2 separate regions of the Homo sapiens genome follow, and region 2 is linked to region 1. Evidence: fine-mapped expression QTL. A gene starts in region 1. The other region holds a variant in brackets. All regions are shown on one strand. Distances are between the middles of the regions. Region 1 holds the start of PLAAT4 (phospholipase A and acyltransferase 4). Region 2 has its middle 8.4 kb from the start of PLAAT2.

Region 1 (5,373 bases):
CAGTGATTGTGCACAGCTTCCATTGTTAAAGAAAAAATTATCTAATGATACAAGCTTGATATCCACTGCACTGGGATTTTGCAGCAAGAGAGAGAGATGGGGCTCAAACTTGAACACAGCACGGGCAAGTGGGAATTCATAGGCAAGGAGAAGCATACAGGTCAGTGGATGCAAAATTACAAAGAGGAAACCTCAGGGGCAAGAGAGATTCTGGTTAAACCACACTAACAGGATTCTTGCTGAAGACAGGCCGGGGTGATCAGACATCACCTGGAGGACAGTGAGAAGGATGAACCCGGTCAGATATTGAGGGTGGGAAGTTCCTGCTAAACTGACTTGGCAGGGTCCTTTGCTAAAATTAGATTTTACAAGGAAGTACAGATGTGCCTAGGAAGAGGTTTGGGAACCTGACTAAAATGTGGTCACACAGAGAATCTTTGCCACCATGCCCTCTCCAGCCAGGCCAGTCTCCCACCACATCTGTGTTCACCTGCCCCAAAGCTCTCCCAACCCCGTCATGTAGGGGTTTCTACGGAGGCTGCATAATGTAGACATTACTGATTAAATAATGGTGATCAGTCCCCAACCTGAAGTTATCCAGCTCTCCCTCCTCAACCAAGAGCCACCTCATTAGCATAAACTCAGATTTGTTTGACAGAGACTCCTTCTGAATAACATGACATCCTATCACTCAGGAAATTCCAAGGGTCTTAGGACCTCTGTGTCTGGAACTGGGGTCAAAGACCAAAAATATATTTTTTTATCATGCCACATAAGGCATAAATAAACTTTTATTATGCTACAAGGCATAAATTTATTTAAAAATAAAAATTTTTATTATGCCACAAGGCAAAAACCCAGACTCTGGGATTGTTGAATGCAGACTCTTGTGGGGGCCCCCTTAAAGAGTTTTGTGATCCTAAATATTTCAAAATGGAGTCACTTACGACAAGTGACTCAGCCCACAGTGAAACTGCTGAACCCTCAAAATGATAAACATAGGTATAAAGGACTGAGGTAATAAGATAACATCTGCTGTGGCCAGACACCCCCAAGACCTGATGAGAAACTGAAACCAAAAGGTGGCTGAGATAATGACCATGGACACTCCTGCAGAGGGCCATAAAAACAGCAAAGAAACTGACCACGGCAAGACACCTGTAGAAGCTCTGCCCGAGAAAGCTCTGAGGCTTCCTCATGATATCCACAGCGGTCCCTGGAAGCTCTGCCCAAACACAGCAACATCGTTCAACAGTGTTTTGAGTGAAACCCAGAGGCATGCTAACCTAAACAACAGAAATGGGGGTTTTTTGTTTTGTTTTGCTTTGAGACATGGTTTCACTCCAGTTGCCCAGGCTAGACTGCAGTGGAGCAATCTCAGCTGACTGCAGCCTGACTTCTGGGTTCAGGCGATCCTCCCATCTCCGCCTCCCAAGTAGCTGAGAGTACAGGCACATGCCACCATGCCCGGCTAATTTTTTTTTCTGTATTTTTAGCAGAGACGGGGTCTCGCCATGTTGGCCAGGCTGGTCTTGAACTCGTGGGCTCAAGTGATCCACCTGTCTAGGCCTCTGGTTGGGTGTGAAAATATGGCCCAGTTCTGGCCAATGGAGAAGGGAACAGGTCATCTGGGGAACTGTGGGAAAGACTTAACTCCCTGAAAAAAAGACAAATGAGAATTATCTTTCCCTCCATCTTTTGGGCATAGCCAGGTAAAAATGGGCCACTCAAGGCTGCTACAGCCATGGGAGTCCCTGCAGGGCAACAGTGCAGACCCAGGACCAGTGCAATGGAGACAGCCTGCTGAGTCCTTGGTGACCTTGGTGAGCCACTAAACCCAACCTGAGTCACCCTCTTCCTGCCTTTCTGTTACCGAGACAATGGGTGTCCAGGCTGTTGAAGCCCTTTTGAGTTTAGTTCTGCTTCTTGCACCCAAATGCATTTTAATGGGGCCATGAGCTCCCAGGCTCCACATGGTCTAAGGTACCCCTCACCTCCAGGGCATCCCCATGGAATGAAACACCCCCTCTGGCCTTCTCCCAAGACTTCTGGCCCAATATTTTCTGGGTGTCTTTACAAGACAATGTCCTATGGGGTGCACTGGGGATTGACATCTCCCTGCCTCCGAATGCCTCCCCTTCCTGGAGTAGGAAGAGCTGCCCAGGGTTCTTTTTAGAAGAGACCTTTATTTTGGCCAGGTGCGGTGGCTCACACCTGTAATCCCAGCATTTTGGGAGACCGACGGGGAGGCAGATCACAAGGTCAAGAGATCGAGACCATCCTGGCCAACATGGTGAAACCCCGTCTCTACTAAATATGGAAAAATGAGCCAGGCATGGCAGCAGGTGCCTGTAATCCCAGCTACCTGGGAGGCTGAGGCAGGAGAATCACTTGAACCCGGGAGGCAGAGGTTGCAATGAGCCGAGATCGCACCATTGCACTCCAGTCTGGGTGACAAGAGCGAAACTCTGTCTCAAAAAAACAAACAAACAAACAAACAAACAAACAAAAAAGAAAAAAAAAGAAAAGACCTTTATTTCTCAAGCAAGGGCAGAAATTCAGGGCTCCCCTTCGACTCTGGCTGCTCCCAAGGTGGCTTTAAAGCACCAATGAGTCCATGGCTTGTGTAAGAAATGATTAGTCCTTCCATCTAGAGAAATAGCTCCTTTTTAAACAGTTGTCTCTTTTAAACAGTGTTTAGTATTTAAGTGAGGTTGAAACAGTGTCAAAAGGAAAGTGAAAGTGAAATTCTCTCCTTCAGCATAAAAGCTGATCCACAAACAAGAGGAGCACCAGACCTCCTCTTGGCTTCGAGATGGCTTCGGTAAGTTTCCCAGGGCTTTGCATTACTGACTCTACAGCAGTTGGGCAGCTCCCCCTAGGAAAGGCCTCAGTCCAGGCTCCTGGCCTTGGGCACACAGCTCCAGAGCTCGTCTTTAGAAGGCTGTCATGGAAAACTGTATTTGTCTTTTAAAAGTGCATCTGCCCAGCTGGACAGGGAGTCCTCTGGGCAGAGTCCACCTCCTCTGCGTAACTGGCACAGTGCGGGGAGCCCGGGACTCCCATGTAGTAGAGAGCTGTGGGGTGCCGGGTGTCAAATCTACCTCAGCCTGAGGAGAAGCCAGAGTGTGGGCAGGTGGGGGACTCTGGGTTGTGGGAAGCAAGCAAATCCCAACATCGTCTGCTTCTGCTGTGACTGGGGCTCAGTCCCTTCTCGGCCCCAAACGATGCTTTCTCTCTCCTCGTTCCTCTGTGGCATCATCCAGCCTTCTAAGGTGCATTCTAATCTCAGCAGCTTTCTGAAAACTGAAATTTCTCCTCCTATCAGCCCAGATGTACCGATTGGCAGAAGCTCTAGGGAGAGCAGGCTGAGCTCGGTGGTGTGTGACTAAAAAGGAACAGCGGGGCTCAGGCTATTACTAGAAACAAAACCATTCCGGGAAGGAGTCCTGCAAATTCTGGAGGGCAGCCCACTCCAACAGCACCACCTGATCCTGGGGAAGGGCTTTACTGCTGCCAAAACAAATCAGGGCTTTTAACAGGGAGCCCAGGCCAAAGCTCATATCTCACTGGCCACCAGCTGAGGTTGCCAGTACCTTGACTGTGGTTTTAGACATTCAGCATTGCAGTTAAAAGCCCCTCTCTCTCCCCACATGGAAACCATCTCCTGTGGTGCCCTGACATACAGAGGAGGAGCTGGGAGGGAGTCCTGGCCCTGCTCCTTTCTCCTCCCTCTTCCTTGTCTATTTCCTTGCCCCATTCTACGCCAGGCCCTTCACTGGGTCCTGGAGGTGCAGGGAGGGAGGAGCACACAGGATCCTGCCTGCCTGGAGCTCACAGCCCAGAGGGGCACAGGGAGGCACAGGGAATTGCAGCTCAACTTGACCCCTGCAGAGAGCAGCAGAGGCCCCCGGGGACCCAGGTCCTAGGAGTGGGGTGGCGGGTCAGCTGAGCCAGGCTGGGGCCATCAGGGCAGCTTCTCAGGTGAGGGGGTTTGAGGGAGGGGAAGAGGAAGAGTGGCTGCAGGGAAGTGATGGAGGCAGGGAGAACCAGATGTGCAGAGCAGCAGAGACCAGAGCCAGGGCAGTAGTGAGGGGCTGGGATGTCACTCAGTGGGCCTGTGGGTGCAGAGCCCAGGGAGGGAGAGGAGGGTGAGGAAGGGCCAGTCAGGAAGGGCCTGGGAGCTGCCCACAGGGTGTGTCCTGGGCCCTGAGGTCAGAGGACGGTCATGGCCAGATGTGCCCTTGGGAAGGCCACCATGGGTTCTGAGGAGTTGGATATGGAGTGGCAGGGACAGGAGGCAGGGGCTGGTCAGGGGGTTGTGGGGGTCACAGAGGCAGGCATGGGGCTGCCTGAACCAAGTCAGTGGATGGGATATTGACAAGCACACCAACAAGGAGAAGCTTCCGGAGTCCACATTGATTGGTTTTAGTGACTGGATATTGGCATGAGGAAGAGGGCAAAGGAGAGCAGACCCCAGGTCTATGATGGGACATCCTGGGATGAGGGAGGAGGAGGCTGTCACCCACTGAGGACAGGGACAGAGAGGGTGAAAATGGAAAAATCCTCCAGTCATGAGGCTGCTATGCCCTGGGGCAGGACATGGAGAAGTGGGAAGGAGGTGAGGAAGGGGAAGAAGGTGGCCAAGACAGGAACCAGGGTGAGGGGTGTGCAGGGAAGAACCAGCTCGGCCTCCTTCCAGCTGAGTGTTCTCAGGAAAGCCCTGCCACCTCTCTGATCCTCAGTTTCCCCATCTGTGCAATGGGATGATCATGCCTTCCCCTGGGGCTGTGGAGATGGTGCAGTTATTGTAGGACAAGTTCCCACAGAGGCCTGTTCTGTGAGTGCAGAGCCCCCTCAGTGCTGGGAGCTGGGGGGCCCCACAAGACCCCACTCAGGTCCCAGCAGGATGCTGTGAGCTCCTGTCTCCCAGGGTGTCATCTCCAAGAGATAGGTGTCCTGAGGCTGGATGGGGCAAGGTCTGAGGAGGAGGTGGCTCTTGGGGCCATGGAGAGGCACAGGGCAGGAGTGATGAGGAACTGAGGGTCAGTCTGCAGAGGGCGGAGAGCTCAAGACTCACCTTCCCAGCCTTGCTCCTGGCCTCAGTGAAGGTGCTGGTTCATGCAGGCTCTTGAGTCGGCCTACTGAGGAGCATGTGTACAATGCACACATGCACACACATCTGCATCCTCAGCATGCACACACACAGCACACACATGTCACACATGCGCCCAGACGGTCCTTCTGTCTCCCATCCCACAAGATCATTCTCCAGGCTTCCAGCCCCCAGTGCCCCCACTGAGAAGAGCCTCTGAAAGTGACAGCAGGGCTGAGGATCTCATGGGGCTAGCAGCTGATGAACATCAGCAAGGC
Region 2 (5,373 bases), 35 kb after region 1:
TCCCAGCACTTTGGGAGGCTGAGGTGGGTGGATCACCTGAGGTCAGGAGTTCAAGACCAGCCTGGCCAACATGGTGAAACCCATCTCTACTAAAAAATACAAAAATTAGCCAGGCGTGGTGGTGCACGCCTGTAATCCCAGCTACTCAGGAGGCTGAGACACAAGAATTGCTTGAACCCAGGGGGCAGAGGTTGCAGTGAGCCAAGATCATGCCACTGCACTCCAGCCTGGGCAACAGAGCGAGACTCTGTCTCAAAAATAAAATAAAAATAAAAATTGACATCTGTCCTTCACATGTAAGTCTGAAATTCTCCCCAAACTGACTTTTTCTGTGCAGTGCAAAGTCCATGTGGTTATATGTGAATACCATTTACTAGTTAGGGATCAACAAACTATAGCCTACAGGCAAATGCAGGCCTTCATCTGTTTTTGTTTTGTTTGTAATAGACACTGGGTGTCACTATGTTGCCCAGTTCAAATAATCCTCCTGCCTCTGCCTCCCAAAGTGCTGGGATTATAGGTGTGAACCACCATGCCTGGTCTCCTTTGCCCGTTTTTGTACAGCCCAGTAGCTAATAATGGTTTCTGCATTTTAAATGGCTGAGAAAAACAAAAAGAAAGCTAATAACTCATGACCCATGAAAATTATATGAAATTTAAATCTCAATGCACATAAAGTTTTATTAGAACATATCCATGATCATTTGTTCACGTACAGTATTGTCTATAGCTGCTCTTACAATACCACAGCAGAGGTGACTAACTACAACAGACACTGTGAACACCACGTAAGGCTGTCTAGCCCTTACCAAAAAAGTTTGCCAATCCCTCAATAGTTCATCCTTTCCCCCCATGATCTGCAGTACTGTCTCTGTTGTAAATTAGAGTTTCATTTATTTGTGGGTCTGTTTTGGAAATTTGGCTCAATCCATTGGCCAATTTAACTATCTCTACACCAAAAATACACTATCTTGATCACAATAATAATTTATAATAAGCCTTAATAATAACACAAGTCTCCCTGCCTGATGTTCCTTCTTTGTTAATGAAATAGCTAACCCTGCCTCTTTACTTTTCCAAATACATTTCAGAATCTGGCTTCCAATTCCAGGAAAGACCTTGTTGGGATTTGGTTTGGAATCACATTGAATCCATAGGTGAGTTTTGAAAGAAACTGACATACTTATGCCATTGAGGCTTCCTATCCATTAATGATATATCTCTCTCCATTTATGAGGTCTTCTTTAATGTCCTTCAATATTTTCTCCATAGAGGTCTCACTCATTTGTTACCATAATCCTTGGTAAAACTCACCTACACGACCATCCAGGCACACCATTTCTTTGTAGAAAAAGTGTTAACTACTGATTTATCCTTTAATGAGCAAAGGACTGCTTAGATTTTTAAATATTTTCTTGGTTCAATTTTGATGACATTTTTCTTGGAATATATCAATTCCATCAAAATTTTCCAATTTTTTATAATTATTTATCAATATTTGTTTTTGCTGGTTTAATCTCTGCAGCATCTATAGTTGTGGTCTCTTTTTTACTCCTAAATCATTTGCTGTGCCTTCTCTCTTTTATATGCTTGTTTTTCTTCATTTATTTTTGCTCATATCTTTGTATTGTCTTCCCCTTTTTCTGTCTTCTTAAATTGGATAATTAACTCCTTAACTTGCACCTCTCCTTCCTTTCTTTCTTTTTCTCTTCTTCTTTTGCTTTCTTTCTCTTTTTCTTTTCTTTTCTCCAGGCTAGTATTGAATTCCTAGCCTCAAGCGATCCTCCCACCTCAGCCTTGCAAAGTGCTGGGATTACAGGCATAAGCCACCATGCCAAGTCACCTTTTCCTTTCTTAATGTAAGGATTTATGCTACAAAATTTTTTCTAAGCACCCCTTTAGCTGCATGGTCCAAATATTGGTATCTAGTATTTTTGTTATCATTCAGCTCTAAATATTATCTAACTCCCATTAGTTTTCTTTTTTTGACTCATAATGTATCTAGCAGTATATTCTAAAATTCCTGAAAGTATAGGGTTTTTCTGGTTATCTCTCGCTATTGATTCCTGAATTAATTGCTTTACGGTTAAAGAAGATTATTTCTACGTTACTAATCTAAAATTTGTTGGCTTGCTTTAAGACTCTCATAAATATTCCATGTGTGCAGTTGAAAAGAATCTGTATTTCACAATTATATTATATATGGTCATTAAGTAAGCTTGTTGGTAAATTTTCTATGTCTTTATAGACTTCTATGTTTCCTTCATTCATCAGTTCCTTAGAAAGGTGTATTTAGATCTCCCACTATGATGATGTTTGTCCTCTCCAAACTTCATGTTGAAACTTAATCCCAAATGTGGCAGTATTGAAAGATGGGTCTTTTGGCAGGGTGTGGCGGCTCATGCCTGTAATCCCAACACTTTGGGAGGCCGAGGCAGGCAGATCACCTGAGGTCAAGAGTTCAAGATTAGCCTGGCCAACTTGGTGAAACCCCATCTCTACTAAAAATAGAAAAATTAGCCAAGCATGGTGGCACACACCCATAATCCCAGCTACTCAGGAGGCTGAGGCAGGAGAATTGCTTGAACCCAGGAGGCAGAGGTTGCAGTAAGCCGAGATCCCACCACTACACTCCAGCCGGGGTGACAGAGTGAGACTCTATCTCAAAAAAAAAAGGAAGAAAGGAAAGGAAGGAGAGGAGAGGAGAGAAGAAAAGAGGAGAGGGGAGGGGAAAAGAAAAGAAAGAAAGAGAGAGCAAAAGAAAGAAAGAGAGAAAGAAAGGAAGAAACAAAGAAAGGAAAAGAAAGAAAGAAAGAAAGAGAAAGAAAGGAAGGAAGAAACAAAGAAAGG[AAAAG/A]AAAGAAAGAAAAAGAAAGAAAGGAGGAGGAAGGGAGGGAGGGAGGGGAAGGAAGAAAGAGAAAGAGAGAAAGAAAGATAGAAGAAAGACAGAGAGAGGAAGGAAGGAAGGAGGGAGGGAGAGAAGGAGGGAGGGGAAGGAAGGAAGGAAGAGAGAAAGAGAGAAAGAAAGGAAGAAACGAAAGAAAGAGAGAAAGAAAGGAAGAAAGAAAGAGAGGAAGGAAGGGAAGGAAGGAAGGAAAAGAGAGAAAGAACAGAGAAAGAGGAAGAAAGAAAGAGAGAAAGAGAGGGAGGGAGGAAGGAAGGAAAAGAGAAAGAAGAAAAAGAAGAAAAGAAAGACAGGAAGGAAAGAAAGAAAAGAAAAGGAAGGAAGGAAAGAAAGGAAGGAGGGAAAGAAAAAGAAGAAAGAAAAAGAAGAAAGAAAAAATAAAGAGCCTTTAATTGGTGATTGGATCATAAAGGCTCCACCGTCATGAATGGATTAACCCATTCATGGATTAATGAGTTAATGAATTAGTGGTTTATCACAGGAATGGGACTGGTGGTTTTATAAAAAGAGGAAGAGAGAACTGAGCTAACACACTCAGCCTCCTCACTATGGGATGCCCTGTGCTGCCTCCAGACTCTGTAGAGAGTCCCCACCAGCAAGAAGGCCCTCACCGGATGCACCCCCTTAACCTTGGACTTCTCAGCCTCCAGATCTATAAGAAGTCAAATCATCTCTCATTAATTACCCACTTTCAGGTATTCTGTTATAAACAGCAGATGATGAATTCCTCTTTGCAATCAGTCAAAAATTTCATTATTTTGAGACTTATTAAATGCAAGCAAGTTATATATTTCTAGTGAATTAAAACTTTTATCAGAATTTTTTTGTCCTCTGTCTAGTAATAACTTGCTTTAAAGCCTATATTTTCTTTTTCTTTTTTTTTTTTTTTTTTTTTTTTGAGACAGAGTCTCACTCTGTTGCCCAGGCTGGAGTGCAGTGGCGCGATCTCGGCTCATTTCCATTTCAGTCTTTGTGTGTGTGTGTGTGTGTGTGTGTGTGTGTGTGTGTGTGTGTGTGTGTGTGTGTGTGTGTGTGTGTGTGTGTATTTTTTTAGAGACAGTCTCGCTTTGTTGCCCAAGCTGTTCTCTAACTCCTAGACTCAAGGGGTCTTCCTGCCTCAGCCTCCCAACTAGCTGGGATTACAGGCAGACACCACTGTACCGATTTTATTTATATTTTATCTGTTTTTATATTTTGAATGTATCAGCTGTAAACTGTATTCCCTGGATTTGTTTTTTAATCCAGTGTAATGTTTGCCTTTTACTTTGCAAATTTAGTCCACTTAGGATTACTTATATATTTGGAATTAGTTCCTCCATTCTATTTTTTTATTTCTATACATGTCATCTGTTTTATGTAATTTTTTTCTCATTTATTGTGTGGTTTGGTTTTGGGTTTTTTTTGTTTTGCTTTGTTGTTGTTTTTAATTGAACCAGGTGTTTTTGTTTTGCCTTCTTGTGTTTGTTTTTCTCATTCCTTTTTCCCCCATAATTAGTTTGGAGGTTTACATTCCATGTGTCCCCCTCACCTTATACCATGTGAGAGAGCGAGCTTCCAAAGACCTACTGCTTGTTGACCTGTGTCCCTTAAGTTTGGGGAGCTCGAGAACTGGCATTAAGTGCTACATCTAAAAAGCCGGGGCAAAAAAAAAAAAAAAGGAAACTGTACTGAAAGAAAATGATTATTCTATCAACACTAGGACATGAATGGGCAGGTGTTTACCCTACACCAGAAGTGGACCCGGCAGGAAGGAGCTGGCATGGAGCCCTCTGTAAATCCTGCCCAGGCCTCCAAAAGACAGAATTGTCCCCAGACAACCTGGAGATGAAGGAAACATTCACAAGCAAGTAGGGAAGCATCGCCCTGTGGAAGGAAAGACCGTCGGCCCCAGGGGAGTACATCTGAGGAATACTCAGAAAAAAACCCTTCAGAAAAATGGTCACTTTGAACACCTGCCAAGCCCAGCAAGCAACAGCTGCAAGACCTCAAATGACCAGTCACACAACATGGTACCTTCTCCCAGCCTGACCCGTAAGGGCTCAGCAGCAGGGACGTCAACCATGAGCCCAGCCACATCCCTAATCCACTAAGCTCTCAGGCAACATTTGCACCATGTGACCCACCATCAGGCATAGGCGATAGGTCTAGTGGAGATCACCTGACCCAAAGGTAGCCAATGGGAAAGTTGAGTTATCTGGCGAACTGAGCCAATCAGATTCTCTCCTGGAGGTGCCACTGGGAGTGTGGACCCACAGACAGCGGGGAAAGAATCTGAGCCAATGTGGGAGGAGAGGAGCAGGCAGGAAGGTGGGTCAGAGACTTGGGGATCATGGCAAGCAGAAGCAGTGAGGAAGCAGGAGTGCCAAGGAGATGGAAGCAACAAGGCAAAGGAAAGACGTGTAGAGCAAAGGAAAATAAGGGAAATTTTAGTAAGATTGGCAAGCATCTATACTAAATTTCCTTATAGCCGA

Evidence for each region. PIP is the estimated chance that this variant, and not a neighbour inherited with it, causes the effect.
Region 2: its variant is the best candidate, but not a certain one, in a credible set for the expression of PLAAT4 in whole blood (INTERVAL, PIP 0.60).

What each region holds. Positions count from the first base shown.
Region 1 is chr11:63,534,054-63,539,426 of GRCh38, forward strand. It overlaps PLAAT4 (phospholipase A and acyltransferase 4), which reads left to right and starts at 2,755. Exons shown (of 4, transcript NM_004585.5): 1 at 2,755-2,824. The coding sequence starts at 2,816. RefSeq lists enhancers at 907-996, 2,654-2,703.
Region 2 is chr11:63,569,086-63,574,458 of GRCh38, forward strand. No RefSeq gene overlaps it. Among named protein-coding and RNA genes, the nearest start is that of PLAAT2, 8.4 kb to the left of the region's middle. The variant AAAAG/A (reference allele first, on the strand shown) is at 2,851.